2 separate regions of the Homo sapiens genome follow, and region 1 is linked to region 2. The links come from fine-mapping of genetic effects on gene expression. A gene starts in region 2. The other region holds a variant in brackets. All regions are shown on one strand. Distances are between the middles of the regions.

Region 1 (8,482 bases), 55 kb before region 2:
TTGCATCATTATTTCACAGAGGCCAGCCTGCCAAACAGCTGTATCAGAATCCACCTGGGGGAACATTCTTTTTTTTTTTTAAATACTTTAATTTCTGGGATACATGTGCAGAACATGCAGGTTTGTTACATAGGTATACACATGCCATGGTGGTTTGTTGCACCCATCGACCCATCATCTACATAAGGTATTTCTCCTAATGCTACCCCTCCCCTAGCCCCCCACCCCTGACAGGCCCCAGTGTGTGATGTTCCCCTCCCTGTGTCCATGAGTTCTCATTGTTCACCTCCCACTTATGACTGAAAACATGCAGTGTTTGATTTTCTGTTCCTGTGTTAGTTTGCTGAGAATGATGGCTTTCAGCTTCATCCATGACCCTGCAAAGGACATGAAGTCATTCTTTTGTATGGCTGCATAGTATCCATGGTGTATATGTGCCACATTTTCTTTATCCAGTCTATCATTGATGGGCATTTGGGTTCCAAGCCTTTGCTATTGTGAATAGTGCTTCAATAAATATACATGTGCATGTGTCTTTATAGGAGAATGATTTATAATCCTTTAGATACATACCCAGTAATGGGATTGCTGGGTCAAATGGTATTTCTGGTTCTAGACCTTTGCAGAATCGCCAACACATTGTCTTCCACAGTGGTAGAACTAACTTACACTCCCACTAACAGTGTAAAAATGTTCCTATTTCTCCACATCCTCTTCAGCATCTGTTGTTTCCTGACTTTTTAATGATCACCATTCTAACTGGCATGAGACGGTATCTCACTGTGGTTTTGATTTGCATTTCTCTAATGACCAGTGATGATGAGCTTTTTTTCATATGTTTGTTGGCCACATAAATGTCTTTTTTGGGGAAGTGTCTGTTCAGATCCTTCGCCCACTTTTTGATGGGGTTGTTTTTTTCTTGTAAATTTATTTAAGTACTTTGTAGATTCTGGATATCAGCCTTTTGTCGGATGGATTGCAAAAATTTTCTCCCAAACTGTAGGTTGCCTGTTCACATTGATGATAGTTTCTTTTGTGTGCAGAAGCTGTTTAGTTTAATTAGATCCCATTAGTCAATTTTGGCTTTTGTTGTCATTGCTTTTGGTGTTTTAGTCATGAAGTCTTTGCCCATGCCTATATCCTGAATGGTATTGCCTAGGTTTTCTTCTAGAGTTTTTACAGTTTTAAATGTTACATTTATGTCTTTAATCCATCTTGAGTTAATTTTTGTATAAGGTTTAAGGAAGGGGTCCAGTTTCAGTTTTCTGCATATGGCTAGCCAGTTTTCCCAACACCATTTATTAAATAGGGGATTCTTTCCCCATTGCTTGTTTTTCTCAGGTTTGTCAAAGATCAGATGGTTGTAGATGTGTGGTTTTATTTCTGAGGCCTTCATTCTGTTCCATTGGTCTATATATCTGTTTTGGTACCAGTACCATGCTCTTTTGGTTACCATAGCCTCGTAGCATAGTTTGAAGTCAGGTAGCATGATGCCTCCAGCTTTATTCTTTTTGCTTAGGATTGTTCTTTGCTATGCAGGCTGTTTTTTGGTTCCATATGAAAATTAAAGTAGTTTTTTCTTATTCTGTGAAAAAAGTCAATGGTAGCTTGATGGGGTTAGCATTGAATCTATAAATTACTTTGGGCAGTATGGCCATTTTCATGATATTGATTCTTCCTATCCATGAGCATGGAATGTTTTTCCATTTGTTTGTGTCCTCTGTTATTTCACTGAGCAGTGGTTTGTAGCTCTCCTTGAAGAAGTCCTTCACATCCCTTGTAAGTTGTATTCCTAGGTATTTTACTCTCTTTGTAGCAATTGTGAATGAGAGTTCACTCATGATTTGGTTCTCTGTTTGTCTATTATTGGTGTATAGGAATGCTTGTGATTTTTGCACATTGATTTTTATCCCGAGACTTTGCTGAAGTTGTTTAACAGCTGAAGGAGATTTTGGGCTGAGATGATGGGGTTCTCTAAATATACAATCATGTCATCTACAAACAGACAATTTGACTTCCTCTCTTCATCTTTGAATACCTTTGTTTCTTTCTCTTGCCTGAATGCCCTGCCCAGAACTTCCAATACTATGTTCAATAGTAGTGGTGAGAGAGGGCATCCTTGTCCTGTGTTGGTTTTCAAAGGGAATACTTCCAGCTTTTGCCCATTCAGTATGATATTGGCTGTGGTTTGTCATAAATAGCTCTTATTATTTTGAGATCCATTCCATCAACACCTAGTTTATTGAGAGTTTTTAGCATGAAGGGGTGTTGAATTTTATCAAAGGCCTTTTCTGCATCTATTGAGATGATCATGTGGTTTTTATCATTGGTTGTGTTTATGTGACGGATTATGTTTATCAATTTGCTTATGTTGAATTTGCGTGTGCATCCCAGGGATGAAACTGACTTGATCATGGTGGATAAGCTTTTTGATGTGCTGCTGGATTCGGTTTGCCAGTATTTTATTAAGGATTTTTCTCATCGATGTCATCAGGGATATTGGCCTGAAATTTTCTTTTTTTATTATGTCTCTGCCAGGTTTTGGTATCGGGATGATGCTGGCCTCATAAAATGAGTTAGGGAGGAGTCTCTCTTTTCAAATTGTTTGGAATAGTTTCAGGAGGAATGGTACCAGCTCCTCTTTGTACCCCTGGTAGAATTCGGCTGTGAATCCATCTGGTCCTGGGCTTTTTTTTGGTTGGTAGGCTATTAATTACTGCCTCAATTTCAGAACATGTTATTGGTCTATTCAGGGATTTGACTTCTTCCTGATTTAGTCTTGGGAGGGTGTAGGTATCCAGGAATTTATCCATTTCTTCTAGATTTTCTAGTTTATTTGCGTAGAAGTGTTTATGGTATTCTCAGATGGTAGTTCATATTTCTGTGGGATCAGTGGTGATAGCCCCTTTATCATTTTTTATTGTGTCTATTTGATTCTTCTCTCTTTTCTTCTTTATTAGTCTGGCCCCTCTGCTGCAGGTCTGGTAGAGTTTGCTGGAGGTCCCTTCCAGACCCTATTTGCCTGGGTATCACCAGCAGAGGCTGCAGAACAACAAAGATTGCTGCCTGTTCCTTCCTCTGGAAGCTTCGTCCCAGAGGGGCACCCACCAGATGCCAGGCAGAGCTCACCCATATGAGGTGTCTGTTGGCCCCTGCTGGGAGGTGTCTCCCAGCCAGGAGGCATGGGGGTCAGACACCCACTTGAGCCGGCAGTCTGTCCCTTAGCAGAGCTTGAGAGCTGTGCTAGGAGATCCTCTGCTCTCTTCATAGCCAGCAGGCAGGGATGTTTAAGTTTGCTGAAGCTGCACCCACAGACGCCCCTTCCCCCCGGTGCTCTGAGGGAGATGGGAGTTTTGTCTATAAGCCCCTGACTGGAGCTGCTGCCTTTTTTCAGAGATGCCCTGCCCAGAAAGGAGAAATTTAGAGAGGAAGTCTGGCTACAGTGGCTTTGTGGAGCTGTGGTGTGCTCTTCCGGGTTCAAACTTCCCAATAGCCTTTGTTACACTGTGAGGGGAAATGGTCTACTCAAGCCTCAGTAATGGCGGATGCCCCTCCCCTCAATAAGCTGGAGTGTCCCAGGTCAAATCCAGACAGCTGTGCTGGCAGCCAGAATTTCAAGCCTGTGGATCTTAGCTTGCTGGGCTCCATGAGGTTGGGATCTGCTGAGCTAGACCACTTGGCTCCCAGCTTCAGCCTCCTTTCCAGGGG[G/T]GTGACCGGTTCTTTCTCGTTGGCATTCCAGGTGCTACTGGGATATTAAAAAAAAACTCCTGCAGCTAGCTTGGTGTCTGCACAAACATCCACCCAGTTTTGTACTTGAAACCCAGGGCACCAGTGGTGTAGGCACCCGAGGGAATCTCCTGGTCTGCGGGTTGTGAAGACTGTGGGAAAAGCATAGTATCTGGGCTGGAGTGCATCATTCCTCATAGCACAGACCCTCACGCCTCCCTTGGCTAGTGGAGGGAGTTTCCTGACCCCTTGCACTTTCTGGGTAAGGCAACGCCCCACCCTGCTTCTGCCCGCCCTCTGTGGGCTGCACCCACTGTCTCACCAGTCCCATTGAGATGAGCCGGGTACCTCAGTTGGAAATGCGGAAATCACTCGCCTTCTGTGTTGATTCGGCCATCTTACCAGCGACCTCGGGAACATTCTTAAAATACAGATTTCCAGGCCACATCTTGGGGACTTCTAAATTAGTTAGTCTAGAATAGGGCCCAGGCAACTCTACTTTTAACAAACTCCACTGTTGGAAAAGCAACTTGAAAAGATGCATGTACATACTGGACAATGGGTGATATTCCCGGCAGGAAATCATGTCAAAGAACCATCAGACTGTGGGTCCTAGCAAAAGGCTGAAGCATGGCAGCATTTAGAGATGAAAGCAGACAGGCAGGCCAGCAGAGGCCGGCAGTTCCTGTCCACAAAGCTTAGAAGGAGGAGCACAGTCACAACCATGAAGTGGGGTTTAGAGAAAGCTGCTCAGTGCTGAAAATGATCAAATCCTGAGCAGGTTATCCACACAGGGACACAAGCATGGCAGGACCAAAGAGGTGAGTGGAACTGGACAAACCTGGGGCTTGGTCATGAGAATAGGACAGAGGCCCAGTCTTTAAAGCTAACACAGAATTAAGGGGCATTAGTGCTTGTTGAACATCAATTCTGTGGAAGGTGCTTTTCACAGGCTGGCTCTGGTGTTACCCTCACACACACTGATTTAATCCCCATTTAATAGATGAGGTGGATTTAAAAGGTGAACAGGGGCTAATTTTTATCTTACTGGGCCACAATATCACCATCTTTAAAATGAGTAGAATAATTCTTACCCTGGCGTGGTATGGTCCCTGGTACACGGTAATGTTTAAAAGAAATTTCATAGTCTCTGAAAGGAAACCCTACACTTACGTTTTGCTATTTTGCAATACAATGTGTTCAAAAACATACCACAGCTTTTTATATCTAGTTAACTTCCCTAACTAGCTTTTAAAGCCCTCTCTTACCCAATCACATGCTCCACACCAAATGCATTTCTCACACTCCTCCGAGCCCCACACTCCATGCAAACTAACCCAGAGGCACACTAGGCCTCCTTTGCCATCCTCTCTATTGCTAGATGGTAGAACACATCTGTACATTTTCCCCTTCCTCCTTCCTTATATATATAAACAGTGAATTTGTAGTAAATACATGATCTATGCCAGGCACTGTACTGCATAATTTATTTGCATTATTTCTTTCGAGAGTCATGATGACCCTATGAGGTAGCTATTATTATTTTAACACTTTTACCAATGAGTAAAGTGAGGCCTTAAAGAAGAGATACAGCATACATAAGATGACACATTTAGTAAATGACAGAGACATGCTTTGGACTCAGGTTTATCTGTGAACAAAGCCTTCGCTTCTAGCATCTGTGCCATGCTCTCTGCTGTTGACCCAAGCTGTTGGTCATACAAGGCTGAACTAACACTTACTTCCTCCCTGAAGGGGAGGGCACCTCTAGGCTTCACTGGATCAAAGGCAACACCAAAATTTTTATTTAAGCACATCAAAGTCTGGAAACCAAATAGAGAATCAGTGAGAACACTTCATTATCCCTTGCAAAAGGTGCCCTCAAGGCAAAACAGGGAAAGAGTGAAGCTCTCTGAATCCTTAATACTTGAGTCTTGTTCCAGGAAGATATTAGCTGGGCCTCATTTATTTATTTATTTTTATTTTTTATGGGAATTTTTAAATTTGTGTCTAAGTAGGTATATGTATTTGAACATAAGACAGGCCATATTTCATACAGATTGTGTGTATTATGGGTGAAGACATATTTTGTGCAAGTCAGAAATAGGCATCACTTTCACCATGGCTCGCCTGGGGTAACTGTTTTGGTTGCAAAGCCACTTGGTGACCAACATCTGTTAGTCTCTTAGGAACCAATCTAAATTAGATAGGTGGCAGAAAGAGAGTGACTCTGCGTGTGTAGCACTGGAAAGTCAGATATCTTCAAATAGCAATCTTAAGGTAATTTGGGGTACTGTCTTCTTTTAATATGTTTTCTGATTATAAAAATAATACATGGTAACCATAGTATCATTGAAAAATACAAAAATATATAAAGAACAAAATTCTTTAATCCTGTGATCCCACTTCCAGAGATAACAACTAATATCCTTTATCTTTCTTTCTAGTGAAGTGATCTTTAAAAGCCAAGGAAAGGAAGACAGGAAAAATGAAGATAAATCCCAAAAGATCAATATTTACTTTTAGTCTGCATTTAAGTGTGCATCGTTGAGAGAATCCACGGCAACTTTTATTAAAGATAGAAGTTGTACTTGCCAACACATCAACAATTTATGTTTAGAAACAAGATACTCAATCTCAAGTTATCTTCCCTCTGTAAGCCGCATTTAGCTTTTTAAAAATCAAGATATTGAGATGCATTATACATATTGCAAAATCGATGTTTTTAGGTGTACCGTTTTATAAATCCTGACAAATTTATACCGTTGTGTTTACAATACCACAAACAAGAAACAGAACATTTCTATCACTCCAAATGTTTCTTTGTGTCCTTTGTAATCAGTTTTCTTCCTCCAAGGCCAGAGCCTGATAACTACCAATCTGCTCTGTGTCTTAATAGCTTTGCCTTTTCTGGAAGGACATCTCAATGGAATCCTATAGTATGTAGCATTTGAAACGGGCATCTTTCTTTTAATATATTTGAGATTCATCAGTGTTGTTGCATGCTAAATAATATTCCATTGAATAGGTTTGCTGCAATATGGTTTATGCATGCACCAGTTGGTAGACATTTCCGTTGTCTGCCAATTTTGGCAATTATGAATAATAGCAATATAAACATTTGTGTGCAAGTCTTCGTGTGCAAGATGTGTTTTCATTTCTTTTCAGTAAATTTCTAGTGGTGAGATTTTGAAGTCATATGGTAAGTGTATGTATAACTTTAAAAGAAACTGCCAAACCATTTTCCAATCAGGCAGTAAAAATCTGCATTTGCATTGGCAATGTGTGATAGTTTCACTCACTCCACATTACTATAAGCACTTAGGATTACTGAGTTTTTAAATTCTTAGCCATTTGACTAGCTGGGCTGTTGTTATGATTTAGATTTCCCTAAGCACTTACAATTATAGGATTTTTTTTTTTTTTTTTTTTTTGAGACAGAGTCTCGCTCTTGTCTCCCAGGCTGGAGTGCAATGGTGCCATCTTGGCTCACTGCAACCTCTGCCTCCTGGGTCTAAGCGATTCTCCTGCCTCAGCCTCCCAAGTAGCTGGGATTACAGGTGCCCACGACCACACCGGGATAATTTTTGTATTTTTAGTAGAGGTGGAGTTTCACCATGTTGGCCAGGCTGGTCTTGAACTCCTGACCTTAGATGATCTGCCCGCCTCAGCCTCCCAAAGTGCTGGGATTACAGGCGTGAGCCACTGCACCCAACCAGATTATCTGATTTTTTAAATTTTAGCCATTGGAATAGATGGGCTGTGGTTATGATTTAAATTTCCCTAATGACTAATGATAGTGGGCATCATTTTATGATTTTTTTTTTTGCCATCTGTGTCTCCTTTGGTGAATTCAAATAGTTTTGCCCATTTTAAAATTCAGTGTGTTTGTTTTCTAATTATTGTGTTGTGAGGGTTATTTATATATTCTGCATACCAATGCTTTGTCAGGTAAGTGTTAACCAACATATTATTCTAACGTGTGGCTTGTTTTTCATTTTCTTATTTTTAGGATTTTTTTTTAATTTAAATTTTATTTTAAGTTCAGGAGTACATGTTTATGTTCGTTATATAGGTAAACTTGTGTCATAGGGGTTTGTTGTACAGATTATTTTGTCACCCAGGTATTCAGCCTAGTATCCATTAGTTTTTTTTCCTGATCCTCTCCCCCATCCCACCCCTCATTTTCCAATAGGCTTCAATGTGTGTTGTTCCCCTCTATGTGTCCATATGTGCTCATCATTTAGCTCTACCTTGTAAGTGAGAACATGTGGTGTTTGGTTTTCTGTTCCTGCATTAGTTTGATAAGGATAATGGCCTCCAGCTCTACCCATGTTCCTGCAAAAGGACATGATCTCATCCCTTTTTATGGCTGCATAGTATTCCATGATATATATATGTACCATATTTTCTTTATCCAGTCTACCATTGATGGGCATTTAGGTTGATTCCATGTCTTTGCTATTGTAAATAGTGCTGCAGTGAACATACGTGTGCACTTATCTTTATGATAGAATGATTTATATTCCTTTGGGTAAATACCTAGTAATGGAATTGCTGGGTCAAATGGTATTTCTGGCTCTAGGTCTTTGAGGAATCGCCACATTGCCTTCCACAATGGTTGAACTAATTTACATTCCCACCGACAGTGTAAAAGCATTCCTATTTCTCCACAGCCTCATCAGCATCTGTTGTTTCTTGACTTTTTAATAATCACCATTCTGACTGGCATGAGATGGTATCTCATTGTGGTTTT
Region 2 (8,482 bases):
GTTTTTTGGAACTAGCTTAGTGACATAGCTCTTGCAGGAAAATGTGATATTCTAAAAAACTTAAAGGAAGTCCTCTTACAGCTCTAGAACAAGGACTAACTTTGAGGAATATAATGAAGATGGAACATTTGAAATTTCCAATATTTTAGAAACTATGACCAACAAAAATGGCAGTTTCATATGGTTCAACCCAAAAGTTAATAAGCTGATGACTTCCTAAATGTCTTATCTGAAATTACATCATCAGAATGAAGAATTTGAAAAGCTACTTGCTACACCATGTAGCAGAAAAAAAAATTTTAAATATAGACTTTACTAGTCTTGAAGACATACTGTGATTGATGATGCATAAGAGATGCTGTTCAAAATAGTCACATTATAATACCCAATTCCAGATCAAGCCCTCTGTGTCCATGTCAATTTATTCCATTTGTTATTTAGACAGCACTTCCTTCAACAGCCGTAGGGAACCTAAGACATCTATATCCATGGGTGTTTTAGGTTGAGGTCGACAGTGGGCATTATGGGTTTCAGGGCAACTTTAGGTGAACTCAGTTTTCCCTTGTATCACTTAATGTGATTAATGTTCACATGGAGGGTTTTGCCACGTGATCTGGCATCCTTACAATCATGAGCTTACTTATGAAACAGGGAAGATCGCTTTTAGGTTTTCCTTTTCTTTCCCAGAATAGCAATTTAAAAGCCTCTAACTTAACATCTAGATGAACCATAAGGTCTTTTTCAGTTCTATCATTTTGTGATTAGATTTTATGGAAAAGAAAATGACTATGCTTGCTCTCACGTGCATAGGGTATTTCTATAACTATATGCAAGAAACAGGCAACATTAGTCTTTCTTGAGAAGGGAAACTTGCTTTTCCTTGTACTGAGCTTTTGTGCACTGAACTTTTTTTAAATACCATGTATTATTTGCTAACAAGAATTAAAAATACAATTTAAAATGTAAGCAAAGCATTTCACTTGTTAAAGTACAGAACCTCTCCCTGCATAAATGTTTAGTTCCTGTTCTTCTTGTTCTTCTTTATGACCTTACCATTATTGTGATTAAAAAAAAAAAAAAATCCTAGGCACTGTGGGAGGTGAAACAGATGCAGAAGACTTTGACGATGGAAATTGCTATTTATTCTGCAAATATTTGTAACTACTTGTTATGTGACAGATCCTGGGCTAGGTACTTCCTCCTTTACATGACTTCTGGAAGGCTTCTTGTTTAAACATCCACGGTCTTTTTTGTTTTTGTTTTTGTTTTTGTTTTCTTTGAGAGGTCTGCATGCTTAAAATGCTTCCCATAGATAAGCAGTGGTTTGTTCTCCATGAATGCAGCAACAAATTAGGTTACCTGCAGGGAGAATCACCTCCCACACTAAGGTAGGTCCCAGGTGTTTGAGGCAGACACTACCGTGATGACCGGTACATGAGTTAGAGAACACTTTGTACAGAGGGAGAGAGTCCTCTTGACTAGATCTGCAATATTGAGAACAAAAAGAGGCAAGTGAAGATAAAAAAGGAAGGTAGTAGAGGGAGATGACTGGCAATAGAAGCTAGTACAGTAGTATCTTACTTCACAAAATTATTGAGTTACCCAAAAGCTGATTCCAAAGTTTTGTAAATATCATCCCAACACATTAGAAAGGCTTGCTAAATTAAAGAAGCTTGCTACTTAGAGCTTTTGTCAAGCAAAAAGGCCCTTATTTCAATTCAAATTTTACATAGATGACTTGTAGGTAAGAACTCTCAACATTTTCAAAGCCCTTAGACATACATTTCTTTGGATTCTCACAAAAACGCCATGAGAATTGTTTTCCCTTCCACAGATGAGGAAAGTGAAGCTTAGAGGTTGAGCCACTTGCCCATGGAAGCCTGGTAGGGAAATGGCTGAGGTTAAGACCAGGACCCCGGCACACTACTCATTGGCACTAAGGTAGCCCCATGACATGTCTCTACAGAGATAGGCAGAGCAAAAGAAACTTACTTTTTCAGGCAATTTTCTCTGATTTTCATAAAACTGTAGCTACCAAATGGGGATACCTAGGGTATCAGTTTTATGATATCCTAGGTATCCCCGTTTCTCCCATTCTTCCCCTCCAAACCATCTTCCTGGGTCTGCTGCCCTGTCCATCTTCACAGAATTCAGTTCGGATTGTCTCCTCCCCCAGCATCTCTGCTATCTCCACGTAGTCTACAAACTAAGTGCAGGAGCCACAGACTGACAGTCAGGACTTCTGCCTGAGCCCCCATCCACAGCTCAAACCCTCTTTCCTATTTCACTATGCTAATGCTTACCCCTTGCACTCCAAACAAGCAGGTCTGTGTACCACCATCTAACACCCCAACAGGGCCAGGCTAGGGTGAGGTGAGTCACAGCACTTAAAGGTTCACCAAAGAATTCAGTAATCAAGGTTAATATTTTAATGGAATATTTAAAAAAATCAAAATTAATATCAAAAATGCATGATGAAAAATAACAAAATTTTAAATAAAGACAGGGTAAGTTTAGGGGTTTTTCCTATTGCTTCAGGCTCAAAAGTGCCTTCCGGGGCACTGTTATCGGCCCTGCAGTGACTCCCCACACAGATACTTTTACTAATGATGTTTCCCAAAAGTTAGTTCTTACAACCGCTTTCTACATTAGTAACGTCTTTCTTCTTGAACGCTCCAGCATTTAAGTGTAGCGCTCTACTGTCAGGAAAACCCATTTCCCCTAGTAACTAGTAGTACTTCGAAGATATTCTGAATCATCTTGGATCCTTTCCAGCACTTTCCCAAACCACAGTGAGCACTCAGCACCACTTCGCTAAAAGAGTGCAGAATCACAATGCTCAAATCACTGTCTGGGGGGTTCAGCAGGGAGGGGACGCAGATATGTTTTGTTTAGTCCAGGGTGTTTTGAGAAAATTGAATTTGTTATCAAGATTTTACAAATCAGGATATTGTACATGAATATACTCCGTCATTTCTGGAAAAATCAGAAAATCTAGCAACACTAGGTCTAATTCTTGCCCGATAGCAAGGGACCCTGAGAGCAGATAAGCGGCCCTGCCTTCGGAGCTCTCTCCAGTTCGCCTTCCCCCAGTTACAGTGCCTGTCAGGCCCCATTAGATCTTTGAGTTTGCTATCGTAAGAATAAAGGAAGGAGCGCACAGGATAAAAACCCATCGGCTGGGTCTATTCGTTTTTTCCTAGAGAAAAAAAAAAATGTTTCCTGGTTGTCCTTTCGAATATAGTCTCACAGAGAAGCTCACAGAAGCAGCCCACCTTTCTAGCCCACAAACTTCCCACAAGCCGTGAAAGTCGCACCGGCTCTTGCACCCAGATCGGTTTCTCCCGGGTCTTTGGCTCAGGGCCCCCGCCCCTACATTGGCCTTTCCCTTCCTCTGCCACCTCCGCGCTCCGAGGCCTGGGGCGGGTCGCGGGTCCCGGCCCCCAGCCCCCAGCCCCTAGCCGCTGCTCTTTGCCCCGGGCCAGGGCGCTCGGGCTCGCCCACGGCGGCACTGAGCATGCTCAGAGGCGGCCGCGCGGGCAGGTTTGCTTCGCAGGCGCTCGCACTCGGCGGCGGGCGGGCGCGCGGCTGCAGCTGGAGCTCCAGCGCCCGGAGTTGGAGTTGCCGGGAGTTTCCCCCCAACCCCTCCCTTTTCGCGCGCGGCAGCAGGAGCCGGCGCGGGAGCCGCGAGCGGCGGCGAGCCAGCACCCGGGCCGGCTAAGCCTTGTCCGGAGCCCGGAGCCCCGCGCGGGGCAGCCCCCCGGGGAGGAGCCTCGTGCTCTGGGACGCGTGCCGCGCACTGGCACGGCAGGGGCGCGAGCCAGGCTGCACGGTAGGACCGGGGCGAGGGGAGCCAGGCGGTCAGGGCGGAGGCCAAGCCCGGGAGATGCGGTTGCAGCCGCCACGGCTGTTGGGGCGCCTGGCGCTCCGTCCGAGGCGGGTGGCTGTGAGGCCAGGGGAGTAGGCAGGCTCCCAGAGAGATTCTTCCAAGTTGGCGGGTGGCGGGAGAGGGGGCCGCGCGCCCCGGCGCAGCTGCTTTGTGCGCGCAGAGAGGGACTCGTGTCCCTGGTTCTCTCCAACCCTGGGACCCGTTGTGCGGGCAGTATTGGGCAAGCCGCAGAACGGAGCGATTTCCTCCGAGAAAGTTGAGGATGGAGCCTTTTTTTCCGCACCGTCCCCGCGATGGCATGGGCCCCGAGAATGCTGCCCCGAGGCTCCCAGTGTGGGGGAGCTCGGGGTCGCTGCGCCTCTAGCTTGAGCGCAGAAATCCGCGAATCACTCCGATCTTCGCGAACTCTGGCATCTTCTAGGAAAATCATTACTGCCAAAACTGAGGCGAGCTTTTCTGGCGGGCACGGCACCCTGCCCCCAGGGCGCTGGCCCTGGGCGATGCCCCCTTTCCGATCTCAGGCTTGGTCAAGGGCGCCAGGTTCCGAATTCGCGCTTGCCGTGCACGCCGGCATCGAGCCTCACCAACACCGCCGGGCAACGTGGCTGGAGTAGGTGGGTGGCTTGATTTTCCCTCCAACCTTTCCTCAGGTTTACAACACCCCGCCACCTCACCACCCCACCCCGTTCATCTTCACAGAGGACAGGACCTGCAGGTGGAGAATTTGGAAAGACATCTTGTTCTTTAGGAGAAAGTCCCCGGGGTGTATCTGCCCTTGGTTCTGGCCCCAGGATTTCATAACGAACCTTCTCCCCTTCCTATTACGCTTCCCTAGGGACTGGGTGGGAGAGAATAGGATCGGTAGGTCCGCAGGAACTTCCATCTCATTCCACCCTCTCCTAAGATTGCCTTCCGGGCGACCCCAGGACCCTGGAACTGGCATTGTGCGGATTGTAAGGCTGTGGAGGATGCCGACGAATTTTTCCTGGCTCCACTTTTTTCACTTCTTGTTTTGAGTTTTGGGGTTTTGCCTGCACACTAGTCAGAGCTGCGCCCTAGTCAGAGCCACCCTGGGGGTGGAGGAGCTTCAGCCGAGGCTGTGAGCTGCTGTTCGTCTCAGAGGCTGCTAGTGGGAATCGGTCCAGAAATGATTATGCAGGCTAGAAATATGCCTCTCTTTTTTTCTTTTTTGGCTGAACACCTTGGCTGTTGGGTTTGTGTGTTACGTTCTTAAAGGGACACCCTCACACTGCTCAAGTGCCAGGATTTAGGGGCTCACCATTCTGCTGCCTGTTTTTCTCTTTGCTTTTTCCTTGAGGGTAGTCTGCTTTGGGGCCGATTTCTAGATGTGCGAATCACATAATGTGGATACACTACACAGTTCTAGAGTCAGACAGACTTGAGGTCAAGTTTCAGCTTTACAGCTGATGACAGTGCTGATGGACAAATGATTAGTCACTCTGAACTTAAGTTTTCTCTTCTGTCAAACGGAGATAATCGTGGCCTTACCTCCCTCCATTGCAGGGTTGTTGTAAACTCAGATGAGATAATGAAAATGAAAAGAGCTAAGAAAACTTTAAAAGCACCATTCAGGTCTTAGATATTGTCTCTGTGCTCTTTACTCAGTTGTTTTGAATGAGCTAATTCTTAATTATAACAAGACATCTAGGTCTTCTCTCCTCTCTGTCCACTCCTCACCAAGTGGTTTAGTTGCTTGGGCCTTTGGAAGCATCTGTTTACCCTTTTTCTTTCTCTATCCTCAAATCCATCTCTTTTGATTTTAAGAATTGGAGCTCCAGTCCTCATATTTATCTGAGGAAGGCAGCATGATGTAGATTAGGAGATGACTGGGGTGGCCTTATCAACATTCAGAGTCCTAGGCCCCAGAATTGGCACGGTCAGAAAGGCCTTAGTTTGAAACTCAAGGCTGATGAAGAAGTCAGCAGATCCTGGAATGGAGCTCTGACTTGACCTCTAATAGTGACCTTGAACTAAGGACTCAAATCCTAATCTGTGAAATCAGTCTATGAAGATTAAAAGCCAGTATCAATTGAAGGCAAGAACAGGTGAGATTATCACTCAGTTAAAAAGGGTTCACACAGGCTCCTGAGCCACCCCAGGTGCAGCATCTTCCCTAATCTTAGGGCAGTGGTTCTCAGATCAGAATCATCTGGAGGGCTTGTTACATCTCAAACTGTTGGGCTATACTGCCAGAGTCTCTGATTCTCTAGGTCTAGGGTGAAGGCCCAAGAATTAGCATTTCTGACTAGTTCCAGATGATGCTAATGGTGCTACAGACCATGCCTATAGAATCACTAACTTATGGAGTGGGAGATAGTAAGAGAGATGACGTTTGTTGTGAAATGCCATTATTTTACTAGCTCATATACAGAGACAAGGTTTCTTTGGGGGTGTGTTGGGAAGTCTCCTTAGGCATTTTATGTTCCAATGCCTGTGCCACTTACCATTATCTAGGTTTAATAATTCTGATTGCTCTTCAAATGGATGTATTTTACAAAGAGGTAGGATTCCCCCTTCTTTTCATACTGTAAAATATGTAGTCTCAGGTTTTAGATCACCCTTGGGTAGTGCCGGATTGGTGACCTTTATAATTTATAAAATCTAAAAACTACCCCATTTCCTTTTTTGGAGAAACCTCAGACATTTGTGGAAAGGAGGTTACGTACAGTTCTGACAGCTTGAACCTTAAGGTTGGAGGACAGAATAGATCACCTAGGGAACAAGTTTAAGAAGAATTTGCAGTGGTGTCTTTTCCGAATGGACAGCTTACCCAGGCCCTGGAAGGAGCATGAAGTACACCCCACGACAAATGTCCCATGGTGGTTAGACCTGGCAAAGCCCTTTCATTCCTTCTGGAGAATGGTAGTGGCATTGGCAGTGGCTGAGACCCTCTCTTCGTCTCTAAGAGGGTAGAAGGCTGGCTTTCAGGGGCAGCTGATCAGTATTAGTGTGGTGTCCTGTGTAACCTAGCTTGTAATGAAGCACTATTGGGACCTAACCCAATCTTAAGCTCTTTTCCTTTTCCCCCACGCCATAGTCCTGTGCTGTGAGCTCACCATGACTTCCTATGACCTAGACTGTGGCCTTGAATTTTGACTGCTTTGCATCAGAGAGGCTGTGGGAGCCTGCTTGAGTCAGGAGGGTTCCTGCAATAACATCCTAAGGAAGAAATAAAGTTTACATAATGTAGTGCCCAAATCAATTAGGTATAAGAGGAGGTCAGTCAGTGCCTTAACTAGTTCTTGTGTTGCTAGGCCAAATGGGATCCCAGCTCACTGTCATGCTTTATCTCAGCTGTCCATTTGTGCTTTGTTTTAGTTTTAAAATGATTAGCACTAGAGAAACCTATCAGTAAATCAGAAACCTTTAAAAAACTCAAGTGTACACTTAGTGTTTTAGTAGATAAAACTTTCAGGCCCAAACCTGTCTTCCTGACAGCAGTCAGCACTTGGTGAAGGAACAGCCTTCTGGTTGTCACTCTTAAGATTCATTAGTTAATTTCAATGGTTTTTCCCACTTAGTATAAGTAGGGAACATTTCTATTTTAAAATTTCTTCCCATAACCTGATGTTTATATTTTGGGTGTTACCCCTGCTTTGAGGGCAGCCTCTTATCACTGTTGTTCACTTTTCTCAGTACATGGTATCTTTGCTCCCTTTAATAAATCTGTTGTGAGACGGTCATTATGACACTTTATTTCTTTTTGGTCATTAGGACTGTTATTACTGAGTCACAGAGAGTCAGGGCCCATTCCTAGAGCATTATTCTCTATGTTCCTAGAGGGTGCTTTTAAACTAAAACACTAGTTATACTGCACTAGCTCATTTCTAAGATACATTCTTTTTCTGATTTCAGAAGCCCAGATGGATCTTAAAAATTATGAACACATTTAGGCCAGGTGCAGTGGCTCACACCTGTAATCCCAGCGCTTTGGGAGGCTGAGGCGGGTGGATCACCTGAGGTCAGGAGTTCAAGAGCAGCCTGACCAACATGATGAAAACCTGTCTCTACTAAAAATACAAAAACAAATTAGCTGGATGTGGTGGTGGGCACCTGTAATACCAGCTACTCGGGAGGCTGAGGCAAGAGAATTGCTTGAATCTGGGAGACGAAGGTTGCAGTGAGCCGAGATCGTGCCATTGCACTCCAGCCTGGGCAACAAGAGTGAATCTCCATCTCAAAAAAAAAAAAAAAGAAAAGAAAAAAAAAGTATGAACGCATTTAATGTGCAGTTTTTTTTTCTTCTGTAACCTAGTATGTTAGTGTAGTGACTATCAATTGATGACATCCTCAAACAAAGCAAGGTTAGTTCCTTATTCTGGTAGAAAATATGGTTTCTACTCAATGCTGTCCAGCTGATTGAATTGCTGAGCAGTTAGCTCAGCAGTTCCGAGAATATGTTGGGTAAAGTGCTGTTGGGGTGGGTATTAATCAGTTTGCTCTTATAAAGGGCAAATCCATTTGGGAAGCACTGCCTATTATTTTTTTTTCCTCTTGTAGAGATTCTCAACATGGGCATCATTATATCAAAGACTATGAGAAGTACTATAGTTAACTATATCAACGACAAAA

Which allele goes with the higher level. Positions count from the first base shown, and alleles are read on the strand shown. Sizes are in standard deviations (SD) of each study's normalised expression.
With allele G in place of T in region 1, the expression in testis of the gene that starts at base 3,563 in region 2 is lower (moderate effect, 0.60 SD a copy in GTEx).

The links. PIP is the estimated chance that this variant, and not a neighbour inherited with it, causes the effect. A credible set is the group of variants that fine-mapping cannot tell apart.
Region 1: its variant is the best candidate, but not a certain one, in a credible set for the expression of STXBP6 in testis (GTEx, PIP 0.87).

The regions. Positions count from the first base shown.
Region 1 is chr14:25,099,953-25,108,434 of GRCh38, reverse strand. No RefSeq gene overlaps it. Among named protein-coding and RNA genes, the nearest start is that of LINC02286, 52 kb to the left of the region's middle. The variant G/T (reference allele first, on the strand shown) is at 3,709.
Region 2 is chr14:25,045,228-25,053,709 of GRCh38, reverse strand. STXBP6 (syntaxin binding protein 6) reads left to right here and starts at 3,563. Exons shown (of 6, transcript NM_001394410.1): 1 at 3,563-3,832. LOC124903295 (a long non-coding RNA gene) reads right to left here and starts at 3,366. Exons shown (of 2, transcript XR_007064091.1): 1 at 3,276-3,366; 2 at 1,120-1,484.